4 linked regions of the Homo sapiens genome follow. The protein of the gene in region 1 interacts with the protein of each later gene in a pairwise test. Each region holds a gene or a part of one and is shown on either strand. Other genes may lie near its edges.

What was found. Proteins that work in one complex are often made in the same cells at the same time.
Region 2: the proteins of ATF6 (region 1) and CRTC2 interact in binary tests that used the Homo sapiens proteins (3 or more experiments, as listed by UniProt).
Region 3: the proteins of ATF6 (region 1) and NFYA interact in a two-hybrid assay, tested with the Homo sapiens proteins (one study listed by BioGRID).
Region 4: the proteins of ATF6 (region 1) and UBASH3A interact in a two-hybrid assay, tested with the Homo sapiens proteins (one large-scale study listed by BioGRID and IntAct).

What each region holds. Positions count from the first base shown.
Region 1 is NC_000001.11:161,846,320-161,849,819, forward strand, and holds part of ATF6 (cyclic AMP-dependent transcription factor ATF-6 alpha), read left to right. Parts: intron 1-129; coding exon 130-261; intron 262-3,500.
Region 2 is NC_000001.11:153,952,113-153,955,612, reverse strand, and holds part of CRTC2 (CREB-regulated transcription coactivator 2), read left to right. Parts: intron 1-446; coding exon 447-548; intron 549-623; coding exon 624-740; intron 741-1,296; coding exon 1,297-1,358; intron 1,359-2,006; coding exon 2,007-2,075; intron 2,076-2,243; coding exon 2,244-2,347; intron 2,348-2,640; exon of another isoform or gene 2,641-2,714; coding exon of another isoform or gene 2,715-2,733; intron 2,734-2,778; coding exon 2,779-2,808; intron 2,809-2,962; coding exon of another isoform or gene 2,963-2,977; coding exon 2,978-3,042; intron 3,043-3,166; coding exon 3,167-3,216; intron 3,217-3,350; coding exon 3,351-3,500. UniProt on the Homo sapiens protein: Transcriptional coactivator for CREB1 which activates transcription through both consensus and variant cAMP response element (CRE) sites.
Region 3 is NC_000006.12:41,086,474-41,089,973, forward strand, and holds part of NFYA (nuclear transcription factor Y subunit alpha), read left to right. Parts: intron 1-3,105; coding exon 3,106-3,237; intron 3,238-3,500. UniProt on the Homo sapiens protein: Component of the sequence-specific heterotrimeric transcription factor (NF-Y) which specifically recognizes a 5'-CCAAT-3' box motif found in the promoters of its target genes.
Region 4 is NC_000021.9:42,431,402-42,434,901, forward strand, and holds part of UBASH3A (ubiquitin-associated and SH3 domain-containing protein A), read left to right. Parts: intron 1-701; coding exon 702-801; intron 802-3,430; coding exon 3,431-3,500. UniProt on the Homo sapiens protein: Interferes with CBL-mediated down-regulation and degradation of receptor-type tyrosine kinases. Promotes accumulation of activated target receptors, such as T-cell receptors, EGFR and PDGFRB, on the cell surface.

The sequences.
Region 1 (3,500 bases):
CTATGCCTAGCATTTTTGTTACGTGCATGGATCTGCAAAGGAATTGTGGTTTGTTTCACAGCTGCATGTAGCAGGCATATGTGTGACATATTTTTATTTCAGCTATTATTTCCTGTTTTTTATTTTCAGCATGTTGGAACAGGATTCCAGGAGAATGAACCCTAGTGTGAGCCCTGCAAATCAAAGGAGGCACCTTCTAGGATTTTCTGCTAAAGAGGCACAGGACACATCAGATGGTATTATCCAGAAAAACAGCTACAGGTAAGATGGCATGCATCTATCTTTTGGCCTAAGTGATTTAATGAAGCTGAAACAAGAGAATTATCTGTAGTATAACATTGCATCTAAATTGTTCGTGTATATTTTGAGTAGTAGAACACATAAATTACTGAAACCATTAATACATTTTACTTTTAATATTGTAAAATTAAATTTACTTTGAAACCTTTTGTAGTTTTAAAATTCCTATAGAGATGTAATCTTAAAATCTCAGTTTGTGTGCATTAATATACATATTGAAATATATACATATTATATATAATGTCTTTAATAATTATTTTATCTATCATGTGTTTATACATATAATACATCTAATATTTGTTACTGTCTCACCTGTGGATGGATATGATATGGTGGAATAACATGATTGAACCTATTTGCAGTCATTAGGTAAAATCATTTATACTCATTTATTGTGATCTTTGTTGAATCCCTCCCTTGTTGCAATTTAATAATGACTTGATAAATTTCCATATTGCTTGTCAATAGCAAAAGGCTTTAATTGTATAAAAATGCAATTTCTATATTATGTTAACTAGAAGAAGGTATAGTGGACATTTTTATAGTTGTATACTTTTTGATAAACATTTCCCTGTGTTATTTAGAATTTGTATTAGAGCCAAATGGAGCCAGGTCCTTGACTAACAAGGCAAAGGGAGGTCACAGTATGGTAACTATTGCACAGTATAATGCTTGAAAATTATTACAGATTTGTTTACTTTTATCTCTTTAAGGATTTGTAGGTTGAGGGCAATCTTTCTTCCTGATTTTTACTGTGTTACATCCATACTGTTGAAAGATGATCACCACAATCCTGCAGGCTTGTCTCCACTTAGCCTTCCTGAAAAAACTGTTATTTTTGTGGAGTACAGTATGCCAAGTCAGTGGAGGACCCAAAGGATTTTATGGCAGTAGCTGCAACGCAACATAGCAATGATAGATGTCATAATGTTGGAAAACATAGCATTTCCTGCTTTTTTACATGCCAAAATTCATCATACTTCTTAAAATATTCACCTTGATGATCTCTTAACGGTGCCCCTGAATATTGGTAGAGTTTAATAGTATATTTAATTTTCATAAGTAATTTGTGCAGGTTTGCCCTACGTGTTCTATAATTTTGAATTCTGTTAGTGTCCACATAAGATCCATCAAAAATTAAATTTAAATCTAATAGCCTTTGGATTTACGAGAGTTGAGATAGCGTCTTGCTAAAGAATAGAACAAGTTATGGATTGAATGCTTGAAATTACAGTTCAGGTAAGCTTTACAAGAATATTATTTATTCTGCACTAACTGCAGCAAGTAGAAGCCTTCCACATTAGCATAAGATAACATGGTGGCTCCCAGAAAGCATAGTAGTCTGATCATACTAGTTCAAACTAAAAGTCTGAATGACTTTCTGGCTGAAATTTATCAGCTTTCAGAGTAGTACATGGGATGCAAGCTATTTTTTCCCTCCCTTCTCCAAAGTCACCATTGAGTGAATAATCTGGGTTACTGGTCTTGGGGAAAAAAAAAAACCAAAAAACAACCCAGGAAAGATTATGGATTCTTGATTCCATGCAAGTCCTTTGAAATATTTTTCAGCAACTTGAGAGATTTAAATAAATGTCAGTCCATTAATTTGATGTTCTTGATTTTATCAGTATAAATACTGAATAAAAGATACCAAAAAATGTTTGTGAAACATTTGAAAGCACCTAATATTACTTTGTTCTGTGTTCTGAACTGAATTTTAGATGTTTTATCTATTTTCAGCCGTGATACCTATACATTTTTTTTAATGCAGCTTACTTTATGTTTCTTTTTCTAAGGAGAGCTATGAGACATGGTTCAAATAAAAAATGAGTAGATTCTAATCCCATAGTTTATAATATTGTATTAGCCTATCATTTAGTAATTAACTGCTTATATTTTTTCAGTCATAGAAATGTGTGGCATATAAATAGTATGACCATATAATGTTCTATCAAACTGGGACACTCTTAAGAAGGAAAGGTAGTGCTAGTAATAATTACATCAGAATACCAGTACTGCTGTCTTGGATAAATGAGAAAGGATGGTCACCCTATATAAGATGTCACCCAGAACTGATCTTTACTCCAAGAATTCTCATTAACTCTAGCTCCCTAGCACTGTCCTTTACTTTATTTACTTTAATGATTTATTTGTTGAATTTTTTTCTCTTGGCATAAAATGTTTGCAAGCAGACTCGAACTCTGACTGTTCCTGGGCTAATGTTGGTCTAATTGTCTCCAGATTGTATGTTGGCTGATTTTCTCTCTCCTTTAACTCCACCCAATCCTTGTCCTGGTATTTCTCCTATCAGACTTTTTTTTTTTTTTTCCAAAGAATATTTTTGGCTGATAGAACAAAGCCAGTTAGCACAGATGTGCAGAAATCATTACTAGAGTTCAGATCACAAATATATTTTCAAAAGCAGTTTTGGACTTTTCTCATGGACTACAGTGTTTGTATTTTTCTAAGTATGCAGGCATGATTTTTAAAATAATGCGTATGTCATAGATTTATAAGAAGAGGTGTTAAGCAGCCTCCTCTTAGAGGCATTCAGATTTATCAAACACAAGACAGATACTTTTTTTCCTTCTCACTCAATGCTTCATTTTAGGCTGATCCTTTTGTGTTTGCATTCATTACCTGTGCACCAACATGTCTGTTTTATTCCAAACAACTTAAACCTACTTAACCCTTACAGCCACAAGAGAGGACATTGAGAATATTCCTGGTGCAAGTTGCAGGGAAGAATGTTCTATATATCCTCTGCTATTGTTTCTTTTCTCTCGTGTGTGGCATAAATAGCTATCTCTAACTTTTAACTTGAAGTTAGCCTTCCACTCTGCCAGAGTTATTTCTGTTAAGGGGCCAGTGCTTTCTGCCATCTTACTTGCCCTTTCCTCAGCATTTGGCTGTGTGGGTCATTTGCTCCTTGAAAGACTTTCCTTTTGTGTTACTATGGTTTTTTAGTTTCCTTTTTTTATTGGCTGCTGCTTCACAGTAATCTTTGTGGGCTCTTTTTTTACCCAACTCTCAAGGTTTGGAACTGTAAACTTTTTTTATTTTCTTTCTGCCTAGGTGACTCATCTATAATTTCATGCACAGTTCATATCTATATGTCCTGATGACTCTCAAATTTATGTTTTCAGTCCAGACTTCTCTTCTGAGTCTCCAGAGTCACATATCCAATAGTCTCTTTGACA
Region 2 (3,500 bases), 7.9 Mb from region 1:
TCTACTTCCTGGGCTGAAGTGATCCTTTTTTTTTTTTTTTTTTTTTGAGACAGAGTCTCTCTCTGTTGCCCAGGCTGCAGTGCAGTGGCACAGTCTCGGCTTACTGCAACCTCCACCTCCCAGGTTCACGCCATTCTCCTGCCTCAGCCTCCCGAGTAACTGGGACTACAGGCGCCCGCCACCACGCCCGGCTAATTTTTTGTATTTTTAGTAGAGACAGGGTTTCACGGTGTTAGCCAGGATGGTGTCGATCTCCTGACCTTGTGATCCGCCTGCCTCGGCCTCCCAAAGTGCTGGGATTACAGGTGTGAGCTACTGTGCCTGGCCTAGATATTTTAAAAGCAGTGGCGGCAGCAGCATATCCTGGTGACAGAGATGGCAAGGATGGCTGAAGGAAATAGTGCTCAGGACCCTCCTGACATTCCCACTTGTTCCCCATGTCTCAGTTACAGGCCCAAAAACTGCGACTGGCATACACAAGGAGCTCTCATTATGGTGGGTCTCTGCCCAATGTTAACCAGATTGGCTCTGGCCTGGCCGAGTTCCAGGTGAGTAGACCCCAGCCAGGGAGGAGTGGAGTTTCTTAGGCTGCTTCCTCTGCTGACTTCTGTCCTTTTTGGCAGAGCCCCCTCCACTCACCTTTGGATTCATCTCGGAGCACTCGGCACCATGGGCTGGTGGAACGGGTGCAGCGAGATCCTCGAAGAATGGTGTCCCCACTTCGCCGATACACCCGCCACATATCCTTCACAGGGGACTTGGGAGTGTCTGAAAGGTAGTGGGATGGGGTTCCTCAGGGACTCATAGGAAGCACTTGAAGTGTTGTGCGTCCCTTCCTTCTCTTGGAGCTCTTCTTTACCCAGCTTCCCTGAAAAGCGACCATAGCCCCTGCGTCAGCACCTGCTCCTGTGACAAGGAGTTTTGCTCCTGAGGCTGTGCCCCCTGTCTCTGGCTGGCTCTGGCTGTCTTCACATCAGCTTGCTGCCAGAGGCAAGCCTTCCTTGTCTCCTGCTAAAGGAGATTGGGTCTCTTCTCAGATTTCTAAGTTTTCAGTCTCAGAGACCTGCATAACTGTCTCCTCCAAGCCCTGCCTGAACATTCTCCTGGATTTTTTCAGCCCCTTTAGACCTGATTCCCTTTTTCTCTTCCATTCTTTGATCCTATTGTTGTCCCTTATAGAAGAGGAGAAAGGTATGAGTTTCTTGAAACAACTTATCTGCTGCCTTCATTGTTCTTTCCTCATTTGGCCTCTCTCATCTGTCCTCTCTACTTTTTTCCTTAACTGGTGCTGTTCACATTGACAGCTCTCCCTATAGTCCTGCCTACTTATCTCCTCCCCCAGAGTCTAGCTGGCGAAGGTAAGTGTCCAGGGCGGGCAGAAGCTCCTGCCTACTCTCTGACGTGTTTCTGGAAGGAGTTGCCCCTTCTGGGTTGGGGCTGGGATTACTGGGCTAAGGTTTCAACAGTACCTCTTCCTATAACGCCAGGGCTGAGAGAGGTGGAGACAGTTGGAGTAGGTGGGTCAGAGTCCAGCCTTGGCCATGTTGACACTAGTGGTCAAGCCTCCCAGTCCAGCCAGAGCAGAACCAATGGGAACCATAGCCAGGCTGGGGTGTGTGTGTAAGGGGGAGGGGAGAATGGCAGAGGGGCAGGTGAAAATGGCAACCTTCTGTCAAGGGTGGGTGCAAGATGTAGTGTTCTGGCACTTTTAGATTTCTTAAACTCTCCCCTTGTCCATCTCACTTTCAATGCTCATACCCAGGAATGCTGCTGGGCTCCAAGATTCCCATTCAGCTGGTCCTGGCAGAGAGAAGTTTCCAGCTCTCTTAGATTGACTGGGGGAGGGGTCAATCATAGGCAGGAGAAGAACCAGAAAGAAAAGGGGATGATCTGGGTGCTCAGCCATCTTTACTTCCACCTTAGCTGCCCCACATTTTCCAACCCCTATGCCCACCTTCTTGTCCACTGCCAGCCTTCCTCCTCATGACTTTGTTTTTCTACCCCAGGACGATGGCCTGGGGCAATTTCCCTGCAGAGAAGGGGCAGTTGTTTCGACTACCATCTGCACTTAACAGGTGATGGCTTTTGCCTTCTTTAGGCCAGATCTCTTATCTGTAGTTTCTGGGGCCCTGCTCCCTCACCCCCACCCTGTTCCAGACCAGCTAGTGTTTTCCCTTGCTGGGCAGGGCTTAGGGACCAGGAAGACTGTCACTGGTGTCAGCTCATTCCTGCTCCCCCCATAGGACAAGCTCTGACTCTGCCCTTCATACAAGTGTGATGAACCCCAGTCCCCAGGATACCTACCCAGGCCCCACACCTCCCAGCATCCTGCCCAGCCGACGTGGGGGTAAGTGGCCCTGTCCCAGGGTTGGGAGTAACCATGGAGCTATTTATTTATTTATTTATTTATTTATTATTTCTTTCTTTTTTGAGACGGAGTCTCACTCTGTCGCCTAGGCTGGAGTGCAGTGGCGTGATCTCGGCTCACTGCAACCTCCGCCCTCCGAGTTCAAGCGATTCTCCTGCCTCAGCCTCCTGAGTAGCTGGGATTACAGGCATCTGCCACTGTGCCTGGCTAATTTTTTGTGTTTTTAGTAGAGATGGGGTTTCACCATCTTGGCCAGGCTGGTCTTGAACTCCTGACCTCGTGATCCACCTGCCTCGGCCTCCCAAAGTGCTGGGATTACAGGCATGAGCCACCATACCCGGCCTCCATGGAGCTATTTAAAGCAGGTAGGCAAGTGAGCACTGCAGCCAATGCCACTGTATCCCTTGCAGGTATTCTGGATGGTGAAATGGACCCCAAAGGTATGTGTTCCTCACTGCTGTGGGTACTGAATGCCAAAGAATTTCTGGGCTGGTGTTGGGATTGTGTGCAGGTTCAGGGAGCAGGACTCCTTCCCACCTGCTTCTGCTTCCTGTCCTGCCTTACTGGCTCTTTCTCCAACTCTCCCATCACCAGTCTTTCTCTTTCAAGTACCTGCTATTGAGGAGAACTTGCTAGATGACAAGCATTTGCTGAAGCCATGGGATGCTAAGAAGGTAGGAGGAGGCCACCGGGTGTCACCCACTAGTCTCTCTGCTATCCCCTTGCCATGGGGCAGGCCTTCCAGGGTTCTCTGCTGAGCACTGTCCTCATTTTCCATATTCTCCCTTCTCTCCTCAGCTATCCTCATCCTCTTCCCGACCTCGGTCCTGTGAAGTCCCTGGAATTAAGTAAGTACTCCCTGAGGTTGGCTGAGAGGTGGGGGAAGGAAGTACAGGGAGATGTAGGAGACTGATCTCTGCTCTTCCCTGACCACTGCACCCACCCTCCTATTTACATCTTTCTTTTTCTCTCCTTCCCCTAGCATCTTTCCATCTCCTGACCAGCCTGCCAATGTGCCTGTCCTCCCACCTGCCATGAACACGGGGGGCTCCCTACCTGACCTCACCAACCTGCACTTTCCCCCACCACTGCCCACCCCCCTGGACCCTGAAGAGACAGCCTACCCTAGCCT
Region 3 (3,500 bases), on another chromosome or scaffold:
CATAGCCTCCCTTACAATACTTAAGGCTTTAATCCCCTTTGTATAGGAGTTTTTTTTCTCATTAGTGTTGAGTAGCCATTTTTTAAAGAAGACTACTTCTTAACCTTTTTTGAATTGTATTCTCTATTTTAGAATCCTAGTAAAGCTTGCACCCTCTAAGAAAAAGTAGAGATGTCCAGTCTCATGAAAAATTCTGCATATAATTTTAGATTAAAATCCTTGGCCTGAGAAAGATACTGGAACCAGAGAGACAGCCAAGAAATAGATAGAAGAATATTGGAAGTTGGCATATAATAAAAGTGGTATAAACATATCAATGAAGAAATGGCTGAAGAATGATACAGAAAAGAAACTGATTTCTAATTCATACTGTATTTTAAAAAATATTTGCTAGGTGGATTAAAGATCTAAATGTAGAAAAGTAAACTTGGAAAATTCAAAAGAAAATATAAGAATTTTTATGCTATAGAGAAGGATATTTTTAAAAACAAATTGACTAAAACATAATATGCATTGAAATACATCAAATAAAAGTAAACAAGGTGAAAACTTGGAAAAGATATTTTTAATACATACAACCGAGTTTGTATTCAGAATATGTATAAATAACGTTTATGTATTTATACAAAAATAGGAAAATGGGCGAAGAATATGAATAGATGGAAGAGGAAATCCTAACAGCCAATATAAACTTAGAAATGAAGTTGGTTCACATAACCAGATAAATTTGTTTACTTATTTATTTGCCAATACTTTCTGAATGCCAATTATGAGCTGAGTATTTGGAAAAAATAATTCAGAAGACCTAGGCAATCTATCCCCTAACAAAGTAGGATCCATGAATGTCTCTAAGACATGGAACCCATTGACCTGTTTTTTTCACCTTCCTTCCATCAGTAGTCCTTTTTCCTATCAGCTGGTAGACTTTGTGATAACTTAAGGTTCTAGGCATGTTCTTCTTTCCAGACCAAGGTGGTCCCAAGTTGAAATTATGGATGGAAAGTGACCTGGCTATAAAAATCTATCTTTCTGAAAGTATCCTCCTTCCAGACTGCCATCTATGTTGAAGCAATGCTCAAATAAAAAAAGTTTGTTGATGGAATTAATGGTCAAAGAAGCAAAGAGAAGGTTACTTAGTACTAGCCATGTATTCTGGCTTTTAAGTTTGGGAGGTATTCTTGAATATAAAATACAAGACATTTTGAGCTATGGGGCTCTCCTCACTGCTTTCTCTTTTGCACTTAAAAAAAAAAGTGTTCACTAGTTATATGAAAATAGGATTTTGTACACCCAACATTTAAAGGGTTGTATTGCAGTTTTTTAGTTCCAAAATTTAGAGAAATATTTTTCAAGCTTCTTGTCAGGTTTCTGATAACACTCCTAATAAAGTGGCTATAGCCATTAAAAAAAAGAAAGAAGATAGATTTGGATAGCACACGATCCCTTGCTTTCCATAATTGCTTTATAAGGTTTAGCTATCCAATCCTAGGACCAAATAGGAGATACAAATTAAATCAACAAAAATTTGACAAACATTAATGACAGTAGTGAGTATTGGTAATTGGAAACTAATAGGAGGAATATAATCTGTCACATTGCCTTAATTATCTATTACCATATAACAAATTATCCTAGAAGTTAGCAGCTTAAAACAACAAACATTTGGCCGGTGCGGTGGCCCACACCTGTAATCCCAGCACTTTGGGTGGCCGAGGCGGGTGGATCACAAGGTCAGGAGATCGAGACCATCCTGGTTAACACAGTGAAACCCCGTCTCTACTAAAAAGACAAAAAAAAAATTAAGCCAGGCGTGATGGCGGACGCCTGTAGTCCCAGCTACTCGGGAGGCTGAGGCAGGAGAATGGCATGAACCCAGGAGGCGGAGCTTGCAGTGAGCCAAGATCACACCACTGCACTCCAGCCTGAGCCACAGAGCGACACTCCGTCTCCAAAAAAAAAAAAAAAAAAAAAATTTATTTTATAGTTTCTGTGAGTTAGGAATCCTGACACAGCTGTGTTGGATTCTTTCAAGGTCCTCTCAAGGCCCTTATCAAGGTGTTGTCCTGGGCTGCAGTCACATTTGACTAGAGTAGAATACATTTTGGGTTTTTTCTTTGTTTGTTTTTTTGAGACAGTTACTCGCTCTGTTGCCTAGGCTGGAATGCAGTGGTGCGGATCTTGGCTCACTGCAACCTCTGCCTCCCAGGCTCAAATGATCCTCCCACCTCAGTTCCCCAAGTAGCTGGGACCACAGGCATGTCCTACCATGCCTGGATAATTTTTGTATTTTTCAGTAGATACAGGGTTTTGCCATGTTGCCCAGGCTGGTCTCGAACTCCTGACCTAATCTGCTCGCCTCAGCCTCCTGAAGTGCTGGGATTATGGGCATAAGCCATTGTACCCGGCTTTCAGCATTTTTAATATATATAGTATTTCCTCTGTAAAAAAGTACTTCATCATTCACCAAAATGGCAAGATTAAAAAATAATAATAAAGCACTTTAGAGTGTATTTTATTTTTTTATTTTTTTGAGACGGAATCTCGCTCTGTCGCCCAGGCTGGAGTGCAGTGGCGTGATCTCGGCTCACTGCAACCTCCGCCTCCGGTTCAAGTGATTTTCCGGCCTCAGTCTCCCAAGTAGCTGGGATTACAGGCATGCACCACCATGCCCGGCTAATCTTTGTATTTTTAGTAGAGACAGGGTTTCATCATGTTGGCCAGGCTGGTCTCGAACTCCTGACCTCAAGTGATCCACCCACCTCGGCCTTCCAAAGTGCAAGGATTACAGGCGTGAGCCACCACACCCAGCCCAGAGTGTATTTTAAATATGCATGCTTTTCAATATATATAATCATACCACTGCTATCTTTCATAAAAACCGACATTGATTTGTTAATATCAGGTATCCAGACAGTGTCGAAATTCCCTATTTGTTTCATAAATGGAAAATAAGTTGTGTCTACTTCATAATGGAGGGCAGAGCAGGACTTCTTTTTTCCTCTTCAGAACATTTTCTGCTTTCTAGAGAAATGTGGATAACTCTCGGGGACCAAAGGAGACCAGTGTCAGTAGAGTACAATCCTTTTTTTATGTTCTTTTCTGCAGATACAGTTGGTCCCACCTGGACAGATCCAGATCCAGGGTGGACAGGCTGTGCAGGTGCAGGGCCAGCAGGGCCAGACCCAGCAGATCATCATCCAGCAGCCCCAGACGGCTGTCACTGCTGGCCAGACTCAGGTAATTCCACTAGCTCTGTCACACAGGAGCAAAACTGATTTGGAAGAGTCAGATAACTGAGTCAGATATTTCATGTATAGCATGTATAGTAGAAAAGGGGATGAAAACCATAAAAAAATATATTTTTGGCCGGGCGCGGTGGCTCATGCCTGTAATCCCAGCACTTTGAGAGGCCGAGGCAAGCTGATCACAAGGTCAAGAGATCAAGAACATCCTGGCCAACATGGTGAAGCCCCGTCAAAATACAAAAATTAGGTGGGCAT
Region 4 (3,500 bases), on another chromosome or scaffold:
CCTGAGGCTGGGGAGGAAGGTGCCAGAGAGCTGCTGTCCCTGGCTCGAAGCTGCTGGCCACCGCCAAGGCCAGTCTCATGCCGAGAAGAAGTAAATAAACTATAAAGTACTGTTTTCCTTTAGCATTCAGCCAAACAGAGAATGACCAGCTATGGGAAAACAGCAAGGGGATGGATGAGGGCTTCTCCCCTTGGTGCTCAGAAGCAGAATTCATACCTGGGAGCCATAAAAGGACGGCCCCTCAACAGGTCAACACCAGGGCAGTCCTGGAGGGTTTCTCAGAAGAAGTGTGCCAGCAAGAGAGGAGACTAGATATATAGATAGGTAATCTATACTATAACAATACATATTATAATATAGATAGGGATAATGTCCTAAGACGTCTCTATGGGAATGATAAGGACTTAGAAAAGACAGAAAAGTAGAAAAACGGATGTGTCATGATAGGGGCCAATCCTGTCTCTTTTCATTTTCTTGATGTTAGAATGCCCAGAAAATAAAACATTGGAAGAAATTGAAGAGATTGTCAATTTCATGTCCTCTTTCATTCTAATGATTTGGGCAAAATGGGCTGAGCTATTGACTAACGAAGGAAAAGATTCCCTCGCAGTTGCTGGGTGACTGGGAGAGCTGCCATTGGTGCAAGTCCAGTGAGTTGGATGTTAAACTGCATGTGCCTTGCTTCCTGCCCCACCCCCCAGGCTACCGTTGCAAGGAAGAGCGTGCTGGTGGTTCGCCACGGGGAGAGAGTGGATCAGATCTTCGGGAAGGCATGGCTGCAGCAATGCTCCACTCCTGATGGTAGGTCACACTCAGGCGGGTCTACGGACAGAAACACTGTAGATCTAACCAATGAGATCTCCTTCTTAATGACCTTACATGGCACCAGATCCCCTGAGGCACCATTCTGTAGAATGACCATGTGTAGACTGTATGTGTGGAAAACGTGCCTGCTACATCTTCCTCCAGGGGTGTTCCATGTATGCATTTGAGTGTCTGTGTTGGAACCTCTCCAACCTAATCTTAACTGATGTAATTTTTGGCTATGCTGCTTAACAGATGGACGTATTCTTGAACATGCCTCTTGCACACCCCAGCTTTTCTCCTCTGAATGCCAGGAAGTAAGAATAGTGCTTATAAATACACATACCCACAAGCCAACCTCTGTATTGATGATCAATGTCCACATCAATGCTAATCTCCTAATAGGAAGCCTGTAGTGTCACAATTTCTAAGCCATGACCCATTACATAAATTAAGGCATTGAATGTAGTGACAAAATCAATTCACAGTTGCTAGGTTAGCCGAACCCTTTTGGGATCCCCCTCCAGAAGCCCAGCAGACCCAAGAAAGTGGTAAATGAGTAGGGAAAACCATTGGCAGATGACAATCACACACCAGAAAAGATTCTGAGCAGATAACATCATGATCAAGCATATTTCCAAGAACTCACAGAGCTAATAATATGGTCACCTCTATAAAACAAGATCAAGTAAAGATACAAGAGCTTAAAGCAACAATAAGACAATAGGTGGCTATCAGGATGCATTAACAAACATATAAGAAACTTTTTTTCAATAAAACAGTTTTTTTAGCTATTGAATTACTGAAGCTATAGATTGAACTGACACACCTTGTCCATGGTGGGGAGAACCAATACAAAACAATCAACACCAAAAATAGTTATTGAACTTCATAGAAAAAGAAAAAATATTTGGTCATCTGGACAAAAGATCAAGTCACTTATAAGGGAAAATATTTTAAAGGCACTGGAAATCCCCATCTGAAAGGAAACTCCTGGTGGATCTTTTCCCAAGGTAGAGAGGCCCTTGATAAAGTGAAGAATTACATCTAGTTTGTCTGAATTTTGTATATTGCAGGGTTTAATAAATCACAAGGAGGTATAGCCACGTCCTCCCCCAAGGTGACCAACCTCAGGGAACACAAGGGAGATTTGGGGGGCTCTACTGGCCTCTCCCCAGCTCAGCTCACTTTTGGCCCAGGCACCCACATCCTCACAGGGCCCCTCACCTCACCCCATATTCCACACAGACTCTGCTCCCATCAGGACCTGACCTTGCCCCACATCCTTGTCCTCTCCTGAGCTCTGCCCTCTGCCCCCAGAGTGATCACAGCTGAAGTGTCAATGACAGCAAAATACCTAAATGGAGTGTCTTGACATTTTAGAGGGGGATCACAGATGCCTTTGAGAACACAATGAAATTGATGGACTTTCTCTCTGATTTTAAAACTGCCTTTCCCAAGAGCTAATGTTGGCATTGAATAAACACCTCTAAAATGCAGTGTTCAAACAAGAGTCTCTGCCCATGGAAATCCCAGGGAGGGAGTCTTCAGAAAACTCCTATATGGAAACTAAAATGCAGGCATGAAAAATTGCCCCCCGCTGACCCCTGCTGCCCCCCACTGCCCCCTGACTCTGGGTTTGTGCAAGGCTGTGGGCCAGGATGAAGGGGCCTGGCATATTCTGGGGTGCAAAGGGCAGGGCCTGCTATGTATGGCAGAGCAGGTCTCAGGAAGGTCAGTGTGGCTGCTGGAACCTCCTAATAACCAGGAGGCTTGGGGTCCCTTTGGAGAATGTGAAGGCAAACCAGAGTGCACTGGAGGGAGCAGTGTGTCGTGGTGTCCTGTGTGAGGATAATCAGTCATCCTGACGTGGTGACATGAGACCAGTGCCCCGACTCGTTGACCACTCCCTCTTGAGTCAGACTCTGGGCTATGGGTGTTACCTCACTGACACCTCGCAATCGCTACTCTTTCCCTGTTTTTTACTGATAAGAGAGATGAAGTCATTTATTTCTGGCTGCACAGTGAGGAGATGGTGATGCCAGGATTTGCTACCAGACTGTCAGATCTTAGAACTCAAGGTCAAACTCCACGTGAACCCTGGCACCGGGCAGCCTCTGGTGGGAGACAGTCCCAGTGAGCCCACTTCCAGCCTGGCTTCAAGCAATTGACTAAAGAATGCACAACACAGGCATCTCCAGCTCAAGCACTCTGTCCCCTGAGCAAGAAGGATACGTTTAAAGCTAGGGGGATGGATCATTGATGCCAACTTCAGATTCTTACCGAGTTACACTAAACTAGTCATAGAGACACTTTATCAGGTTCTTCATCAGGAAAATGTAAGAGTGAATCTTCATGGGGCATTTTGGGAGGACAAAGAGGGTTGCATAGTTCCTGGGGCTGAAACCTAAGTTGTCTGCATTTGAGAAAATGTTGTGTGCACAGCTGAGCAGCACTTTCTTCTCAAATTGAAGCCACGTTGCAGAGAATGTTCAGAAACAACACAGTTGACAATAATTTCAATAATAACATTGCTGTTAGAGTGGGTCTTGGTCTTGGGAGTTTTGTGGAACAAATCTGTACTAACTTGATGAAACTGAACGTCTGATGCTTATTTATACTTCAGGGAAATACTACAGGCCAGACCTGAATTTCCCCTGCAGTCTGCCAAGACGGAGTCGTGGGATCAAAGACTT